Linked DNA regions of Homo sapiens: region 1 is linked to region 2. Evidence: fine-mapped expression QTL. Tissue or cell type: lymphoblastoid cells. Region 2 holds a variant in brackets; the other region holds the start of a gene. All regions are shown on one strand. Distances are between the middles of the regions. Region 1 holds the start of MCUR1 (mitochondrial calcium uniporter regulator 1). Region 2 overlaps MCUR1 (mitochondrial calcium uniporter regulator 1).

The links.
Region 1: it holds the start of MCUR1, and the variant in region 2 is fine-mapped to the expression of MCUR1 in lymphoblastoid cells (GTEx, PIP above 0.99).

Annotation. Positions count from the first base shown.
Region 1 is chr6:13,810,686-13,820,286 of GRCh38, reverse strand. It overlaps MCUR1 (mitochondrial calcium uniporter regulator 1), which reads left to right and starts at 5,730. Exons shown (of 9, transcript NM_001031713.4): 1 at 5,730-6,272. The coding sequence starts at 5,858. LOC107986571 (a long non-coding RNA gene) reads right to left here and starts at 6,477. Exons shown (of 2, transcript XR_001743986.3): 1 at 6,198-6,477. RefSeq lists an enhancer at 5,263-5,362 and silencers at 5,523-5,792, 5,873-6,542.
Region 2 is chr6:13,781,836-13,791,436 of GRCh38, reverse strand. It overlaps MCUR1 (mitochondrial calcium uniporter regulator 1), which reads left to right. Exons shown (of 9, transcript NM_001031713.4): 9 at 573-4,880. The coding sequence ends at 628. Among named protein-coding and RNA genes, the nearest start is that of MCUR1, 28 kb to the left of the region's middle. RefSeq lists a silencer at 2,116-2,284 and an enhancer at 2,953-3,785. The variant T/G (reference allele first, on the strand shown) is at 4,585.

The sequences.
Region 1 (9,601 bases), 29 kb before region 2:
TACTGATAAAACTCAGAGGCATTCTTTACTTCCAGTTTCAGGGCTATGTTCTTAAATGCAGATGTTATCAGGAGTCTGACTTTCATACAAGGGAAGAGAAAGGATCAGGGAGAATCCCTTCTATTTCTCTCAATTTCCCATCTTAGTACACATTAGAAAAAACTTTTATCAAGACTTTCACCTCCTGAGGAGCATCCTCGTTTCCTCATCCTTGACTTTTGACCTACGTATATTATTATAACTGATGTGAGTGTCTTGTAGGCAGTATATAACTAGGCTGTGCTTTCTTCTTTTTTTAATCCATTCTGACATTCTCTCTGTTTTAATTGGCATGTTGAGACCAAAGGTTGGCCAACTATGGCCCATGGGCCAAATCCAACCCACCACCTGTTTTTGAACAGAACAATATGTAAAAGAGATTGCTTATGGTTCACAAAGCCGAATATTTACTATATGGCTTTTTAAAAACATTCCTCAACCACTGATTTAGACCATTTACACTTAATGTAATTATTGATATGTTTAGATTGATGCCTAATATTTTATTGTTTGCTTTTAGTTTTTATCTCTGTTTTTTGTTCTTCTATTTCTCCTTTCCTATCTCCTTTTGGGTTACTTGAACATTTTTTAATATTACATTTTATCTATTATGTGTTTTGACTTGATCATAGCTCACTGCAGCCTCAAACTCTTGGGCTCAAGTGATTCTCCCACCTCAGCCCCCTGAGTAGCTAGGACTATAAGCATTCACCACCATGTCTGGCTTTCTTTTTTTTTTTTTTTTTTTTTTTTTTGTAGAGGTGGGGTCTCACTATGTTTCCTAGGCTAGTCTTGAATTCCTGACCTCAAGCCATCCTCCCACCTCAGCCTCCCAAAGTATTGGGATTACAGGCATGAGCCTCTGTGCCCAACCTATATCTCTTTGTACAGTATCTTTATGGGTTGCTCTAGGGATTACAGTAGACATATTTAACTTTTTCTAACTCTACTTAGAATCAGTATTTTACCACTGTAAGTGCAATATGAAAACTTCACTACCATATAGGTCTCTTTATCCTTGCCCTTTTATTTTGTAGTTATTATATACCACATCTATAAACATTAAAAACTTCACCATTGTTTGAATTTTTGCTTTCTATCATTTAACATATTTTAAAGAACTAAAGAGGAGAAGAATATTATACTTATCTTGGTATTTGCCATTTCTGTTGCTCTTCCTTTATTCCTAATGCTCCAAGTTTCCTTTTGGTATCATTTCCCTACTATATGGTGAATTTCCTTTAGCAATTCTTTTAGTGCAAGCTTACTAAAAACAACTCCTCTTAGTTTTCCTTCATCTGAGGATGTCTTTATTTCATCACTTCATTACTGAAGGATATTTTTGCTAGTAATAGAACTATGGGTTGACAGTTCAAGCTAGGGGAGCTCATACATTGGAAAAAATACTAAACTAAACATCAGTTCAGTGGTACTTTGATTTTTGTCTTCTTCACTGATGTGCCTGCTATTATTTACTTTTCAGAGTCCTCAAATAGTGGCTCTATGCATTCTGTCCAGCTTTTATGCCTGCATTCAGGTGGAAAGACAGGGTGGAGTGTGCTTATTCCATTTTACCCAGAAGGAGAATCCTTTCTTCACCCTTTAACACTCTTCAATTACGGAGAATAGTAGTTTGATTAGTGGAAGTTGACATTCCCCCATCAGTGTTTACTAGTAAGAGTATCAGTATGCTAAAGGTCACATCCAGGAATGTTCCAACTCCTTTGTTCTCTCTTTGACCTGCTTGCACCGGGGACAATGAGCCCTTGACCTTTCTGTTACTACCTGCTAAAACAGACCCAGTAGATCTTTCAGGGATAGCTCTGGCCATCTTCCATCTCTTTTCTCCTGATGACACCTAGAATATATAAGGCCACCTAAACTTCTCACAGATGGTGGCTAAGTCAGAGTCTGCTCTGTGAATCCAGCTTTACTCATGGGAGGTCCCTAAGTCTAGATACAGAGAGAGAGTAAGATGGCCCCACTTTGGCCCCAGATCCAAGTATATTCACCAATCCAACTTTGTCATAAAGTCCAACTTTGTCATGGTTCACATGGGGGTTGTCTGGCTCCTGCCTGATCCATTAATTAGTTGATACTTCTTCTTCTTCATTGGCCATTAGATTCCTGTATCTAGTCTCTCTATACATAGACAGAAGTCTAACATGTCTAGATTATCCTAATGTACACTAATGTATCCGGGATAGGAATCAGAAGCCCTATCCCAGCTGGTTTAAGTAAAAGCAACTTATTGGATTACATAAATAAAATGCCAATTTCAGCCTAAGCTAGAATCAGACGCTCAAAAGGACCCGTCTCTTCATTTCTCAGTCTTCTTTTCTTCATAAGGGCTTTAGTCTTAGGCCACATGGTAGCCCCAGGAGCTCATGGTTCAAATCATCCTATACCTAGACATCACAATAAAATAAGACGACCTCTTCCCAATAGTTCCTATTAAGAACCCTAGAATTGGGCCAGGCGTGGTGGCTCACACGTGTAATCCCAGCAATTTGGGAGGCTGAGGCAGGCAGGTCACTTGAGGTCAGGAGTTTGAGACTAGCCTGGCCAACATGGTGAAACCCCGTCTCTACTAAAAAATACAAAAATTAGCTGGGCATGGTGGTGCTTGCTTGTAATCCCAGTTACGTGGGAGGCTGAGACAGGAGAATCGCTTGAACCCAGGAGGTGGAGGTTGCAATGAGCCAAGATTGAGCCACCACACTCCAGCCTGGGCAACAGAGTGAGACTCCATCTCAAATAAACAAACAAAAAAAGAATCCTAGAATTGAAGCTTTTTTTTTTTAGATGGAATTTCACTCTTGTTGCCCAGGCTGGAGTGCAATGGTGCAATCTCAGCTCACCGCAACCTCCACCTCCTGGGTTCAAGCAGTCCTCCTGTCTCAGCCTCCCAAGTAGCGGGGATTACAGGCATGTGCCACCACACCCAGCTAATTTTGTATTTTTAGTAGAGACGGGGTTTCTCTAGACTGGTCTCCAACTCCCGACCTCAAGTGATCCGCCCTCCTTGGCCTCCCAAAGTGCTGGGATTACAGGCGTGAGCCACCGCGCCCGGCTGCTCATTAACTCTGATTGGGTGACATGCCCATGCCTGTGGTCTGCAGAGCGATCAGTCTCTCCAAACCGCATGGACTGAGAGCAGAGAAGAGCCACTGCCCATGGAAAACTAGGGTGCTGAGACCAAAAGAAAGGGAATGCTTTGGAAAATAAAACAACAGGTGTCACATCCAAGGAAAAGTGGATGCTATCCAACCTGTAGTTAGAACTGACATTCATTATACTCCTATCATAGGCCAGGCACTGTGCTAAGTGCTTTACATATGTTATTGTATTCAATATGGCTGGTAATAGTAATACATGAAAAGTTAGTCAACATCATTAGGCATCAGGGAAATGTTATGTTAAAAATCACAATAAGGTACCATTTTATGAGGACTGAAAATATCAAAATTTGGCAAGGATGTGGAACAACCGAAACGCTCATCTATTGCTAAGAGTGTGAAAGGGTGCAGTCGCTTTGGAAAAACAATTCAGCAGTGTCTAAAGTTAAGCTACCATATGATTCAGCAATTTGACCCAGATACTTTCCCCAACAGGGATAAAAATTATGTCCACACAAGGTCTTATACAAGAATGTTCATAACGCCCTATGCATAATAGCCAAAAACTATAAGCAAAGCAAATGGCCATTAATAGAATGGATGACCGCTTGTGGTATGGTCATACAATGGAATACTATTCAACAATTAAAAGCAACTAATTACTGATACAACAGCATGGATGAATCTCATTGATATTGAAGTCAGACGCAAAGCAGAAGAAAGACACAAGGCAATGCATATTGTAGGTCTCCATTTACATGAAGTTCAAAAAAAGACAAAACTAATCTATGGTCATTGAAATTTGAAAATAGTTGGCCGGGCGCGGTGGCTCACGCCTGTAATCCTAGCACGTTGGGAGGCCGAGGCGGGCAGATCACAAGGTGAGGAGTTCGAGACCAGCTTGGCCAATATGGTGAAACCCCGTCTCTACTAAAAATACAAAAATTAGCCAGGCGTGGTGGCAGACACCTGTAATCCCAGCTACTCAGGAGGCTGAGGCAGGAGAATTGCTTGAACCCGGGAGGCAGAGGACACAGTGAGCTGAGACTGCACCACTGCACTCCAGCCTGGGTGACAGAGCAAGACTCCGTCTCAAAAAAAAAAAGAGAAAATAGTTGCCTTGGGGTGGTGGTGGATTGTCTGGAAAACTGGCACAAAATAACTTTCTGGAGCAATGAAAATGTTCTAGATCTTGACTGGGTGGTATATACAACTGCTAAATGTCATCAAGTTGCTAAATGACATTTATCAACTGCTAAATGTCACCTAAGTCTGTGGAATTTACTGTATGCAAATTATACCTCAATTTTTAAAAATTACAAAGGACTAACATTAAAGTTTGTGCCACAGTTTAATCGTTCCTCTAATGTTGTGCACTATTTTCCCATTTTTTCACAATCACAAATTATGATACAATGACTATCTTTTGTGCATATGTGAAATTACCAATATTAAGCATTTTGACCCATAAAAATGACAAGTTTGTATAGTCAAACCTAGTAGATATTTAATATTTTGGATTATTCCCATTATCCCCATTTTTAGTTAGGTGACTTGAGAAAAGTTTACAAATTTTTGTTGATACTCATTGCTAAACTGCTTTTTCTACCAATTTTATAAATGTATACTCCTTTTACAAAAGTGTCTTAGGTTGGTGCAAAAGTAATTGCGGTTTTTGCCATTACTTGCAATGGCAAAAGCCGCAACTACTTTTGCACCAACCTATGACTTGAATCCTGTTTTTCAGTTCTTCAAATTTTGATAGACACTTATCTTGCACATCCATATGCACGCTCCTCTCTTCCCAGCACTTTGTACATCTCTCATGGCTCATAACACATTCTTCCATCACGTATGTGTACACATATGGCTGTATAGGAAAACAGCTTCTGGAGGATAAGAACAATTTGTTTTGCGGTTTTTTATTTTTAATAAAATCTCCTAGCTTGGTGCCTTATGCATTTCATTTATTTATTCAACTAACATCTTCCAAATTCACATAAGGGACCAGTTATCTGTGAATGGTGTAACAGGCCTTCAAAAAGTCCACGAAACTAAACATTACCAGTTTCAAATATACCCGACAGGTCTCATTTTAACATTCATGCCCCACGTTTTAAGTTCCCAGATTGCTACCTTCCCATGTTTTTGGTGCTCTAATCTGGAAACAAAAACTCTGAAAATTTAGTTTTGAATGTATTATGTGAGGGCCTTTCCCTGGGCCCTGCTAATAATTCCTTAAAATGCTCCCCAGAACCACATGTTTGGGGACTTAGGATAATCAGTGAAATCTAGGGCAGCCTGTCGGTCTGAGACTTTTCACAGGACTCTGAAGGGCACCGGGGTAATTCCTTTTTAAGGACAGCAGTGCAGTGAAAATGCAAATCGTGACAGCAACAAGCTCCTTCCAGTTCCGGAGTGCCCGCAGGCTCCTCCCGGTCGCCGCCGTCGCCTAGCGAATGGGGTGGGGGCTCGCACGGTCCCCGCATCTCGGAGCGCCACGGCGGGCTCCTGCCGCCCCGCCCCACCCCACCCCCGGCGCGCGTCCCGAGCCCCGCCCGCGCGCCCGGCAGGAAAGGGCGGTCCTGCGCTGTGGCCCACGCTCGCTCCCGCTGTCGGACTCTGGGCCTGGACCGCGCGTGGCCGGCGCCAAAAGCGAGAGGCATGAGCGCGCGCCCGGGCCAGTGAACTGCTCGGGGATGGACTGCGGCTCGGTCGGCGGCCAGAGGACCCAGCGCCTGCCCGGCCGCCAGCGGCTTCTCTTCTTGCCCGTGGGCCTCAGCGGAAGACCGGGCGGCAGCGAAACCTCAGCACGCCGCTGCCTCTCTGCGCTCTCCGACGGTCTGGGGGCGCTGCGCCCTCGCGCCCCGGCGGCCCGCGGCGGCGTGTCACGTGCCTCACCGCTGCTCCTCCTCCTGCTAGTGCCCTCCCCGCGCTTGGCCGCCGCAGCCCCGCGCCGGCAGCTCGGGGACTGGGAGCGCTCGCGCCTCGGGTATGCCGCACCCCCGGCCGGGCGCAGCAGCGCGTGGAGGTGCTCACCGGGCGTCGCCGCTGCCGCCGGCGCCCTTCCCCAGTACCACGGCCCGGCGCCTGCACTCGTTTCCTGCAGGAGAGGTGAGGCCCGGGCGGGAGAGGAGAGGGGGCTCGTCTCGCGGGGTTGGACGGCGGGGCGGGGATCTCAGCTACAGCCTCCCCGAGGAAAGGCCCGGCAGGCCGGAGGGCGGGTCCTCCAAGGCCACCGGCATCTGCCCGGAGCGTGGGTCGAAGGTCCGGGCCCGCCCTGCTCGGCCGCGGTGGCGGGGCTTAGCCCAGAAGAGACGAATTCCTGGGAATCCCGGGCGCTAAAGTTGGAGGGAGGTGCGTGCTGGGGCGGGGAGTTGGTGCCCGCCCACTCCTAGGGTCTGCTTTTGGGCGCCGCCTTCCAGGAGTTCTGTTTGGCAGCGCCCAGCCTGTTGGGCGTTCAAGGGGAAGGGGTGTGTATGTTTGAGCAGCAAAGCTCTGGGAAATGAAGGGATTGCTTTACAGTTTGATTTCAAATTCTGATGGAATCATTAATTCGTGGAGTCCTAGCGTCTGCCCTGTCCCTGGCGCTTTTCTAGATGTGTGAGATATATCAGTCCACAAAATCTTCCCTCTGGAGCTTAATTCTAGCAGAGCAGACGCAGTAAATATGTGTGTGTGGATATACGTATGCATAATTGATGTATATATAATTTATATATACAAATAATTTTTATATATTCGTAATTCGATGCCTGGTATAGAAAAATAGGATAAGGCTTGGGAAGTGGAATGGGTCTCCAGTTGTGAATTTAAATAGGGTGATCAGAATCGATTTCATTGAGAAGGTAGCATTTAATTAGAGTCATGCATCTCTTCAGGACAGTCGCCTACTGAGAAATGAGTCATTAGGCGACTTCTTCCTTGTGTGAATATTGTAGAGTGTGCTTACACAAACCTGGATGCTACAGCCTACTACACACCTAGACTATCAGGTAGAGGCTAGTGCTCCTAGGCTACAAACCTGAACAGCATGTTACCGTACTGAATACTAGAGGCAATCTGAACACAATGGTATTTGCGCATCTAAATGTAGAAAAGGTAGAGTAAAAATATGTATTATAGTCTCATAGACCACTGTCGTGTGTGCCCCTCTGTCCTGGGCTGAAAGGTAGTTGTGGGGCTCATGACTATTTAAAGGAGGTGAGAGAGATCACTGCCCTGGAGATGAGGAAAGTAAATAGAATCAATTTATTAGATAGCATATTGTTGATTAAAGAAAAAAATCATTTCTGATAATCAACAGACTTGGCAAAATTATCACTTTGGGCAGTCTATACATATTCATTAGTAGCCATCACTAACTACACATTTTTCATATTTTCTTCAACAGATAGGCCCACTAAATGTTGACCATATCTATAATTTAAGAATATCATTGGCTGGGGTAAAAACTGATTAGTAGAGCAATAAAGTGAAGGAAACTTTATATACAGAGAGTGGGGAATGAGTAGTGAACTCGGTGTCACTGTCCTTCAGTAATTAGGAGTCGGAGATGAGTTTGGTCTTTATTCTGTATTTTGCCTTTTGTTGCGCTTTTTCTGACAAGCTAGTAATTTCCAATTTGTTTTTCTCTCAATGCAAGAGTATAGGGCAAAAAGAGAGTGTTCTTTCTCACGGATTTGCTGACCAATCGGTAAGGTGGTACTGTTGTTTTAGTGTCAGCTATCTCATTCTTCAGTCATCATAAAAAATGAGTATGGATGCATAAAAACAGAAGAGAGCAGAGACACAGTTAAGGAAGCATGTATGCCCATTAACCAGCCAATGAGCGTTTCCCAACCATTTGTTTGCTTGGTGCCTGAGGTTCTCGGTTGAGCTACTTAAGGATGTCATGAGTAGGAAGTTTGTATTTGGTTTCCTCATCCTGTCCAAGGCTACCTTTGGGCCTCTATTGTAATTGTGGGTTTTTAATATTCTCTTGATATGCTGAAGGTCCCCAGAAAGGGGAATTGCATGTTACACGTTGACACAGCTCAGTTGGCTCGCTTCCTTATGATCAGTGAGGAGTCTGGGAGTTGGCGGTGTCCTCAGGTACTGCCCTTTGACAGAAGGCCAAGAGGGCATTTCCTTCCCTCATCAGGGGTTGGAGTGACCAATGGAAAGTGGCCAGCCCTTCTGTCGACCTTTCAGAGGCAGGATTTCTTGGAAATAAGCTTGCTGTTTCTGGTTCCAATCTTTTTGAAAAAGAACAACAATAACAAAAAAACTGTAGTATCCAAATTGGCGTTACAAAGTAGTCATGTGATTGTTTTGTTTATGTGGGGGTGGGGGTGAGGAGGTTATGTTTTAAATACATGAATGATTATTTTCTTACTAGAAACAAGGAATTTAGGTCTAGAGTAACCCTGTCACTCTTCACAAGTCATTCCAGACTCAGGTGTTTTCGAGCTCCCTGACACATGGGGCAGTCCAGTAGAGTTCTGGGGCAGGTGAGGTGGTCCTTAGGAGGTCCCCTGGAGAAGTGCTTTCATTCCTTCACTCCCACTGTTTCTCAGGCTAGGTCTCTTCTGTGTTGGGCAGACATCCTGGGTCTCTTCTCATGGAGGCCAGTTTTAGTCTCAGGACTGGAAATAAACTAAAAAAGAGGTACCAGATTTAAGTGAGCTCGTTTATGTGAAAAGGGAAGAACTGAGGAGAAAGGAATTCATCTCAAATTTTCCCTCTAGACAGTTTCATAATCCAGATTGTAGAAGTCATTACAGTTCAATTACCAAAAAAAAAAAATTATTCCTAGCCTGCTGTATGCCAGGCCCCTTGCCAGATGCTAAAGATAAAAAATGAGCAAGACTGGCTGCTCCTGGGCAGCTTGGACAAATAGATGATACAGATGAGGAAATAATGTAGTAAGTGCTACGATGAGCTATCTGTACTGAGCTGAGAACACAGGTATGGGCTCAATAAAGGTTGCTCCCTTAGCTGGGTGGAGGAAGCAGAGAGAACCATAAAGTGTAAAAAAGAAAATGCCACACCTGGAACATAATGTATACTCAGTAAATTGGCAATTTAATGAAGAAGGGTAAAAAGAATGCTTAAAGTTTAACGATTGGGAAAGGGGAGCAAGCCATGCTTAAGCATGCAATTGCAGGAAATAGAATAGCTTAGGTTGCTAGAAAGAAAGCTGAAAGGATAAGCGTGGTCATAAATAGCAAGGGCTTTGTATGCCAGGTCAAGGACCTCCTGTCATAGCACAGTGGTTCTTTGAATCTCAGGGCCCAGTTTTACCAACAAACACAAACACACATAAGTCATTGCACTTTATATTGTGTCAGTCTGCAAATGGTTCTTGATACAGATATGGATTATTGCATCTCTTGCACTCATCTGGATGCTTACAGTGACCACAGCTACCCTCCCCTTCCCAAGCTGTGAGTAGGCTGGGA
Region 2 (9,601 bases):
AATTAACCATTATTTCAAGTCAGATTTAACGTCTTGGATTAATTAAATATTTTAAGGTTACAGCATTATTTAACAGTGAAATGTTGTTCTTTATATTAAATTGTGTCTTCCTGTCTCTATAGTGCATATACATAGACCTTGTGACCACAGAATTTTTGCTATTCGAAACTTTTATTGAAAAGTTTTCTTAGCCTAGGCAACACAGCGAGACCTAGTCTCTACAAAAAGATTTAGCCGGGCATGGTGTCATCTGCCTGTAGCTTCAGCTTCTTGGGAGGCTGAGGCAGGAGGGTCACTTGAGCCCGGGAGTTTGAGGCACAGTGAGCTGTAATCATACCATTGCATGGTGCACTCCTCCTGGGTACCAGATGAGACCATGTCTCTAAAATAAGAAAATAAAATAAAGGGTGTGGGATTTGTTTTTTCAGTAGGCAGGCGTTTCACGGAATATGGGACATCAGTGAGCAATCTAAGTTTCTAGGTTTTCTTTTTTAGGTTTTCTTAAAAAAAGATGTTCCCTCAAGTAACTCTTAATAGAACTAATAGTACTCTCAATTGTTTTTTTCTTACAGGGTCTATATTTACGTGCCTAACAGTAGCTCTGGGATTTTATCGCCTGTGGATCTAATAAAGTGTCTATTTAAAGTGATTTCTACTGTTTTGCCTTAAGAATACCAGATTGTTGGCTGGGTGCGGTGGCTCACACCTGTAATTCCAGCACTTTGGGAGGCTGAGGCAGGTGGATTACCTGAGGTCAGGAGTTCGAGACCAGCCTGGCCAACACGGTGAAACCCCGTCTCTACTAAAAAATTAAAACATTAGGCGGGCGTGGTGGCGGGCGCCTGTAGTCCCAGCTACTCGGGAGGCTAAGGTGTGAACCTGGGAGGCGGAGCTTGTAGTGAGCCGAGATCACGTCACTGCACTCCAGCCTGGGCAACAGAGCGAGACTCCGTCTCAAAAAAAAAAAAAAAACCGGAATACCAGATTGTTGTCCTTTTGTTTTCTTGTTACACATTTGAGCCCAGATTTTGACTTAATGTGTATTATTTATTTTTATGAAAATTGTGGACACATAACCAAGATAAAGAAGTCAGGTATTCCATAGCCATTCCTTATCTCCTTTCTGCTTAGTTGACTTTCTAGCTGAGTGGTGCACAGTGCATGGAAGATTCCACTTAGCCGGACCAGGAAGCTTGGTCTCATCTGTGGTGCACACCAACAGCAAACATTGATGTAATTCTCTACAACTTAATCTTTGGCACATAGAGGATTTGGGGGTCTCCATGTTCAGGGCACAATGGCTTTAATAAGTGCTGGAAAATCACTGAAGCTAAACCAAGAGCACCAGATCCTCTTTACCTAAATAACCAGTCTTTAACATGAGCTAGTCCCTGTACCATAGTATTGTTTCAGCTGTAGTTGGTTGTCATGTTAATAAGACAGCTGCACGTCTACCTTCTTTTCTTTTGATTTCCATTGTCTTGGTAAGTTATTGTTAGGGTTATTTTTAATGTGCCTTCCAGCCAGAAAAATCAGCTGTCTAAAGAAGCATTGCAATTGTAATGGGGACTCTTACCTCTTAGAATGCAAGATTTTCCCTCCTCCCTCCCTCTTCTCCATCTCTTTCCCTCATGATTTGAGAACTGTAATAATCCTCCACTGGTGGCATTACCTACCTAGAAAACCTGCTGATTCTTAGCATGGAACTTTGCTTCAGTTTGCAGGACAAAGTCTGCTTCCTTCCGGTCTTCATTTACTTTTTATACAAGGGATGCAGTCAGCTCTCCATGTATAAGATACCTAGATGATGGATACATATTTCATAAATGAAATTTATGTCATTAATGAATATCCCCTTGCCCACAACCAGCTCAGGCTTTCAAAATTCGAGAATGGTCATGCCACACAGCATTCTAATCTAGATGGATTAATTCTGTTGTTCAAAACATTCTCATACCTGCCTTTATATTGAAAACAAATTCTAGATACAACTGGGGTTATTCTGGAAAAGCACATTCTCACCTTTTTTTTTTTTTTGAGACGGAGTCTCGCACTGTCGCAGGGCTGGAGTGCATTGTCGTGATCTCTGCTCACTGCAACCTCTGCCTCCTGGGTTCAAGCGATTCTCCTGCCTCAGTCTCCTGAGTAGCTGGGATTACAGGTGCCCACCACCACGCCCAGCTAATTTTTGTATTTTTAGTAGAGATGAGGTTTCACCATGTTGGCCAGGCTGGTCTCTAACTCCTGACCTCGTGATTCACCCGCCTTGGTCTCCCAAAGTAGTGGGATTACAGGCGTGAGCCGCTGCGCCTGGCCCATTCTCATCTTATTCAAATTACTGGCACATGGGCAAGAGAGACAATGACATGGATAGAAGCTTTTCTGCCTTTCTCTGCACACACATACAGTGAAGGAACCACAGGCAGATTTTTTGATCAGTTTGGTGAATACATTGCTCGTTGTCACTGTTCCAACCACATTGGTAAAAAAAATAGTTACCTTTTGTCCTTTGGATGTCATGTCTAAACTTTGGAAAATATAAGTCATTGCCCTTTTAGAGAATGTTTGTGTAGTCCAAAGATTGTGAGCTCCATATAGTATGAAAATCAAGTACTTTTGCATGAGCAATAGCAGTTTCAAAGTGAAATATTATAATTTAATCTTTTTCAAGTAGATCAAAAATTCTTAACTGATTAATAAAATATTTTATCAATATATCATCCCCCTTTCAGAGAGAAGTCCCCAGAAGAGACAGCACACTTAGCAATTGCCCTCATTATTAAAGGCCTAGGTGAGTGGCATAAAGGGCCATATGCGATTATGTTTCAAGGTAAACATTACCTAACCTTGTGTGGGTTAAAAACAGTGAAGTGTCCTTGTATCCTGATAAAATTTTTTTTTAAATAACATGGTGGGTTGACATTTTTGCATCTGCTATAAGTTTTCTCACATGTCGTTCTTCCTGGTGAGAGCGGGCTGCATCATTCTGGCACTTAATTTGGGTGTTCGATTTTGCTATAGAGTTCTTTGCAGTACAGCATAGCCTCTTCTTGGCCTTGGGAACAGTGAACTCTTCTTTTGATGGTGTGGATTGCATGCATATCTGGAGAGAGGAGGGCTCAGGACTGTGTTCACTTTATTTGGTCAGATGTATTTTATTTGAAAACCATTTGAGCCCAAAATACAAGTGTACCCTTCCCACTTCTGGCTCAAGCACCCGTGAGCCGACTAGACGTAATATTAAAACTTACTGATGCTGGGTGCGGTGGCTCATGCCTATAATCCCAGCACTTTGGGAGGCCAAGGCAGGCAGATCACCTGAGGTCAGGAGTTGGAGACCAGACTGGCCAACATGACGAAATGCTCTCGCTACTAAAAATAGAAAAATTAGCCAGGCGTGGTGGCACACCCCTGTAATCCTAGCTACTCGGGAGGCTGAGACAGGAAAATTGCATGAACCTGGGAGGCAGAGGTTGCAGTGAGCAGAGATTACACCACTGCAACGAGACTCGGGCCCAGACGAGATCTGCCTGGGCGACACAGTGAGACTCTGTCTCAAAATAAATAAATAAGTAAATAGAACCTCCTGAGCTACCCTGGCTTATAAGGATTCAGATTACTTTAGGAAATTAGGCATTAGCACTAGGAGGGGGGAAGATGGCTGGCAAAACTTCTAGCTAGCAACCTATGTCTAGCACATGGGTAACTAACCATAGCGAGATCCTGAACACATATCCTCTAGGTGCAGGTGGAGGGAACGATGTCCAATACCTGAAGCAGAATCTCACATGGACGGAACGTCTGTATTTCCCTCTCCTGCACGAATCACTCATCATTCTTGGAGGGCTTCTCTGCATTCCTCCTTTTCTTCTCTCCCCTCCCCTGCCTTTTGTCTTTTCTAAAGAGTCTGAACTCCGATTTCCATGCTCTCCTGCTACATTAATAAGCAAAACCTGCTTGTGTGTACGGTTCTTTACTGGAAACATGACTTTTTGTTTCTGTATTGGTTTTACTGTCATCCAGTTTTCTAGTTTAATATCTAGCAAAACTAAATCTGAATGTACTCGCTTTTTCCGTTAAGTATGCCAAGCACCTCGGTTGAAAGGCTTGACTCAAACCAGAAGTCTTGCTGGAATTCGTCTCTGAACACTTGAAAAACAGAAACCCTGAGCCGCAACAAACATGCCTCTGTGTGTCGGGATTGCCTTTGTCTCTGCTTCCATGTGGCTTTTCCTTTTGTAGCTATGCTTAGTGACATAATCTTCCCTCTTCTAGCCTTCTCCTTTCAAGCCTGTCTGTTAATTAACCATGTCAGTATTGGCAAGCATTTATCTTCCCCCACCCTAACATGCAATCTTCTAAGAATTTTGCAAAATTCTAAACAAATATAGAGATGGTATATAGAATTCATATCTAGAAAACTTTGATTTTAATGTGAGCTTATCAAATTTGTTCTGGCTTTTTTGGCACTAAGGCAAAAACATGTTAACCAGAAATAATTTATTCTTCATGTATGTAAAATATTTGAGAATGTTTAGCCTTTTATTAGAATTTTATTTGGAAAATATTTATCTTTCTACACAT[T/G]TTACACTTATGTTCCTTTGCTTATAACCCAATTTCTTAACTTTTTTGTTACTTAAGCAAATATCAATTATGTTTTATTATCTAATAAAGTGTAAGATTCTTACTATCTAAAATATTTAATTCTGTGTGACTAATATACTTTTCTGATCATTCAAATTGAATATGAAAAGCTAGAATAACTGTATTGCAACTGTTAATTCCAGCCAATTGTATAATGATAACACTGGTGAATTTCTAAGTAAATCTAATACTTGAAAATTTGGGTATACATAGAAAATAAATTTTAATATAATGTACAAAGTAACTTTTCATCATTCAAAAGAATTTCTTTAGCATGTTCATGTTATGAGTAATTTTATACAAGCTACTTGTTTGAGGGGAAATGATGAGGTTTAAATACAGGTTTTTAGAAATAGACAATTTTCTTTTTTTTTTTTCTTTTGAGACAAGATACTACTATTGCCTAGGCTGGATGGAGTGCATTGGCGCAGTCACTGCTCATGGCAGCCTCGACCTCCCAGGCTCAAGCGATCCTCCCACCTCAGCCTGGGACCCAAGTAGCTGGGACCACGGGCATGCGCCACCACACCCAGCTAATTTTTTTTCTATTCTTTGCAGAGATGGTGTCTCACTATGTTGCCCAGGCTGGTCTCAAACTTCTAGGCTTAAGCCATCCTCCTGCCTCAGCCTCCCAAGTGCTGGTACTACAGGCATGAGCCACTGCACCTGGCTGAGAAATACACAATTTTAAAAAATATCTGGCCGGGCACGGTTGGTCTTGTCTGTAATCCCAGTACTGTGAGAGGCCAAGGCGGGTGGGTCACTTGAGTCCTGGAGTTCGAGACCAGCCTGGCTAACATGGTGAAACCCTGTCTCTACAGAAAATAGAAAAATTAGCCGGATGTGGTGGCACACACCTGTAGTCCTAGCTACTCAGGAGGCTGAGATGGGAGGATGGCTTGAGCCCAGGAGGTAGAGGCTGCAGTGAGCTGTGGTTGTGCCACTGCACTCCAGCCTGGGTGACAGAGCCAGACCCTGTCTCAAAATAAAATAAAAATAGCTATAAGGATTCATGGAAATCCAAATCAGGCTAGCTTGAGCAGAAAAAAGAATATCCTTTTTTGGCTTATGTAACCAAGGTTCAGGAAGGACCAAAAAAATGCCATTGTGAGAACTCCCCTCTGCACCTCTTACCTTTGCTTCTTCTCTGGAGGGCATAATCCTCCTAGACCTACTTCTTCAAGCACAGAGAGCCTGTGTGTCTGCAGGAAACACCCAGTACATCCCCTTACAGCTTAATGATTAGTGAGCTCCACCCTGAAAAATCTTGGGAAGGAAATATCTAAAGCAAGCAGCTGGGGTCACAGGAAGCAGAAGGGTCCTCAGAGGGATGCACACTTCACCTTCCCTGAGGGCCTGTTGAGCAAATTCCCCACCTCCAAAAAATTGAGCTCTTCTTGAGTCAGCCTGTGTGGGTTGATCTTCAGTGTAATTAATACCTGCTCAGGAGGAGAGGAAAGGAACATCTCAGAAAAGGGGGTAAATGAAATACAGGTCTGGGCACGGTGGCTCACATCTGTAATCCCAGCTCTTTGGGAGGCCAAGGCAGGAGGATCACTTGAGGCCAGGAGTTCGAGACTAACCTGGACCACAAAGCAAGACCCTGTATCTAAAGTGAATGAATGAATGGTAGCCTGGAAATTTCAGTTACATCTCATTTTCTCCAACCAGAAATCTTGTACCAAAGTTAGAATCAAATAACTAGACTTGAGGGGGAACTGCAAAATTTCCAGAAGGCAACTAGCAGATGAGGTAGGCAAAGGCGGTAAATGATTTGCAAACTCAACCTTCAAGTTCAAAAATGGTGGGCAATGTGTTAGATTTTAGTCATCCTTCCACATCTCCCCTAGGTCCCCATTTCACATCAGTGGTAGGGGAACAAACTAAAAACCTTTTCTTTGCCTTGAGTTTTTTATTTCTTTTTCTTTTCCTTTTTTTTTTTTTTTTTTTGAGATGGAGTTTTGCTCTTGTCGCCCAGGCTGGAGTGCAGTGTTGTGATCTCGGCTCACTGCAACCTCTGCCTCTCGGGTTCAGGCAATTCTGCCTCAGTCTCCCAAGTAGCTGGGATTACAGGCGCCTGCCACCACGTCCGGCTAATTTTTGTATTTTTTGTAGAGACGGAGTTTCACCATGTTGGCCAGGCTGGTCATGAACTCCTGACCTCAAGTAATCCGCCCACCTCAGCCTCCCAAAGTGCTGAGATTAGAGGCGTGAGCCACCACTCATAGCCATGATTTCTTTTTCTTTTTTTTTTTTTTTTGAGACGGAGTCTCGCTCTGTCGCCCAGGCTGGCGTACAATGGCGCCATCTCGGCTCACTACAACCTCTGCCTCCTGGATTCAAGCGATTCTCCTGCCTCAGCCTCCTGAGTAACTGGGATTACAAGTGCCCGCCACCACGCCCAGCTAATTATTTTGTATTTTTAGTAAAGACGGGGTTTCACCATGTTGGCCAGGCTGGTCTCTAACTCCTGACCTCAGGTGATCTACCCACCTCGGCCTCCCAAAGTGCTAGGATTACAGGCGTGAGCCACCGCGCCTGGCTGATTTCTTTAAAACTAAGAAGATTGTCTTAAAGGCATTTTCTAGAAACAGCTTTCTCTCTGGCATCCCACAGCAGATCTCCTCCAGTTGTTCCGCTGCCCATTTTGTCTCCACCTTAACTCGGCAGTTTCTGTAGGAGGTTCTTGCCAAGGACCCAAGGAGGGTGGCCTTTGGGACACTGCAGAGGGTGGCCACTGTCAGCCACCAAGGTGTAAGCATCAGCATCCTTAAATAGAGATCAGTGAGATTTTGGTCTTCTTTTATATATCACAAATCTGCAGATAAGTATTTTTAGGCAACACCTTCCGCAATGAGTAGTTGAAACATGTAGGCATTTTATAAGGTCCCAACTTGCCCTTTCAGTTTAAACTAATTTTTTTGTTTGTTTGTTTGTTTGTTTTTTGTTTTGCACATACTCTATGTTTCGGTAAACTCTGATTGGTTGTCCATGATTCTGAAGGTTCAGGTCAGCTTAATGTTAAAGCCAGGAAGAGGCACTCCCGGTTTCAGCTTAGTGTGGCATTTCTGCAGTTAACGTCTTAACAACAAAGGTTTTAAAAATACTTCTTGCTCCGCCACCTCCAGGCTTCACAGTGTTCATTCCCCCAGTGGAAAAGACACAGTTGCTTCATAGCATCTTGTCCCCTACAGCATGAAAGTCAGTGTCTTTTCCTAACACAGAAGTATTTTGCTACTATTTGTCTTTTACATTTGTGTAGTATTTTATGGAGTGCATGAACCTCACAGCCTTCTGAGGGGCGCTGTAATAGAGAGTGTCTCTCTCTAACCTCAAGAATCTCTGTGAGGCCGGGCGCAGTGGCTCATGCCTGTAATCCCAACTCTTTGGGAGGCTGAGGTGGGTGGATCACAGGGTCAGGAGTTCAAGACCAGCCTGGCCAACATAGTGAAACCCCGTCTCTACTAAAAAATACAAAAAAATAAGCCAGGCATGGTGGCAGGTGCCTGTAATCCCAGCTACTCGGGAGGCTGAGGCAGGAGAATCACTTGAACCCGGGAGGCAGAGGTTGCAGTGAGCAGAGATTATGCCGTTGCACTCCAGCCCAGGCAATAGTGTGAGACTCTGTCTCAAAACAAAAAAGAATCTCTGTGAAAATTTGAACAGACTTCGTGAGGAAAAGATGGAGGCCTGGAGGATCAAGATACACAGTGACCTCATGAAAACGCTTACATGTATTTTGTTGACATTTGTATCCCGTGGATGCTGTCAACTGCAGTTAATGTGAAATGAGCAGTGGCTTACACCTAAGAACTTCTGTTTCTTAAATCTAAAATGGGTGATCCTCAGGGTTGGATTGGCAGCTCAACAGTGCCTACAAGGATTGGAGCTCCTTTGGTCTTTCCTTTCTTACCTTCCTATACGTGTCAGCTTTCAGCTTCAGGCTGGGGGTTTATCTGATCTCAAGGGGGCTACCACCGCTCCAGGCATCACATCCTCACGATAGCACCCAGAGGAGGGTGCTATCAAGAAGGGAGGGAGGTGCGAAAGGGCCCTTCTCATGTGTCTCTCTCCTTTAAATCAGGGAGAAAAATCTTTTCCAGAATCTTCCCTGCCACAGGAACCCCCGCGTGTCTCTTAGAACAGGATTGGGTCACACAGACTGGTTGCAAAATGGAATTTTTAGCTTTTTCCGCTCCTCTGGTAGGAGGTGGACAAGGAAGAAGAAGTTGGAAGTGGTTTTCGGATGGGCATTCATCAGCATTGGTTACCAGGTTCACAAAAATAAAACACAGGCTGCAAACTGAAGAGAACCATACAGCGAGTGTTAAGTTGCCATCGCTTAGTAGCTAGAAATACTGCAGAATGTCCCCTCCTTTGATTTCCAGTGTCATGTGGTAATTTCGGTTCATTCTGTTTCACATAATTTTACCAGCTCTCTACCGAATCTTAAATTACTTTTTTTAATGTTATGGCTAGTTTCTAGGACCCCACTATAGTTCTGGATTAACTCAGATGCTTGAGGGGAAAAAAAAAAAAGTTAACCAAAAAATCCACGGCCAGCACGGTGGCTTACGCCTGTAATCCCAGCACTTTGGGAAGGCAAGGGGTGGATCACCTGAGGTCAGGAGTTCGACACCAGCCTGTTCAACATGGAGAAACCCCGTCTCTACTAAAAATACAAAAATTAGCCAGGCGTGGTGGCATGCACCTGTAATCCCAGCTACTCGGGGGGCTGAAGCCAGGGGGCGGAGGTTACAGTGAGCTGAAATCATGCCACTGCACTCCAGGCTGGGTGAAAGAGCAAGACTCCATCTCAAAAAAAAAAAAAAAAAAAAAAAAATCCACATAGGCCGGGCGCGGAGGCTCACGCCTATAGTCCTAGCACTTTGAGAGGCCAAGGTGGGTGGATGGCTTTTGCTCAGGAGTTCGAGACCAGCCTGGGCAACATGGTGAA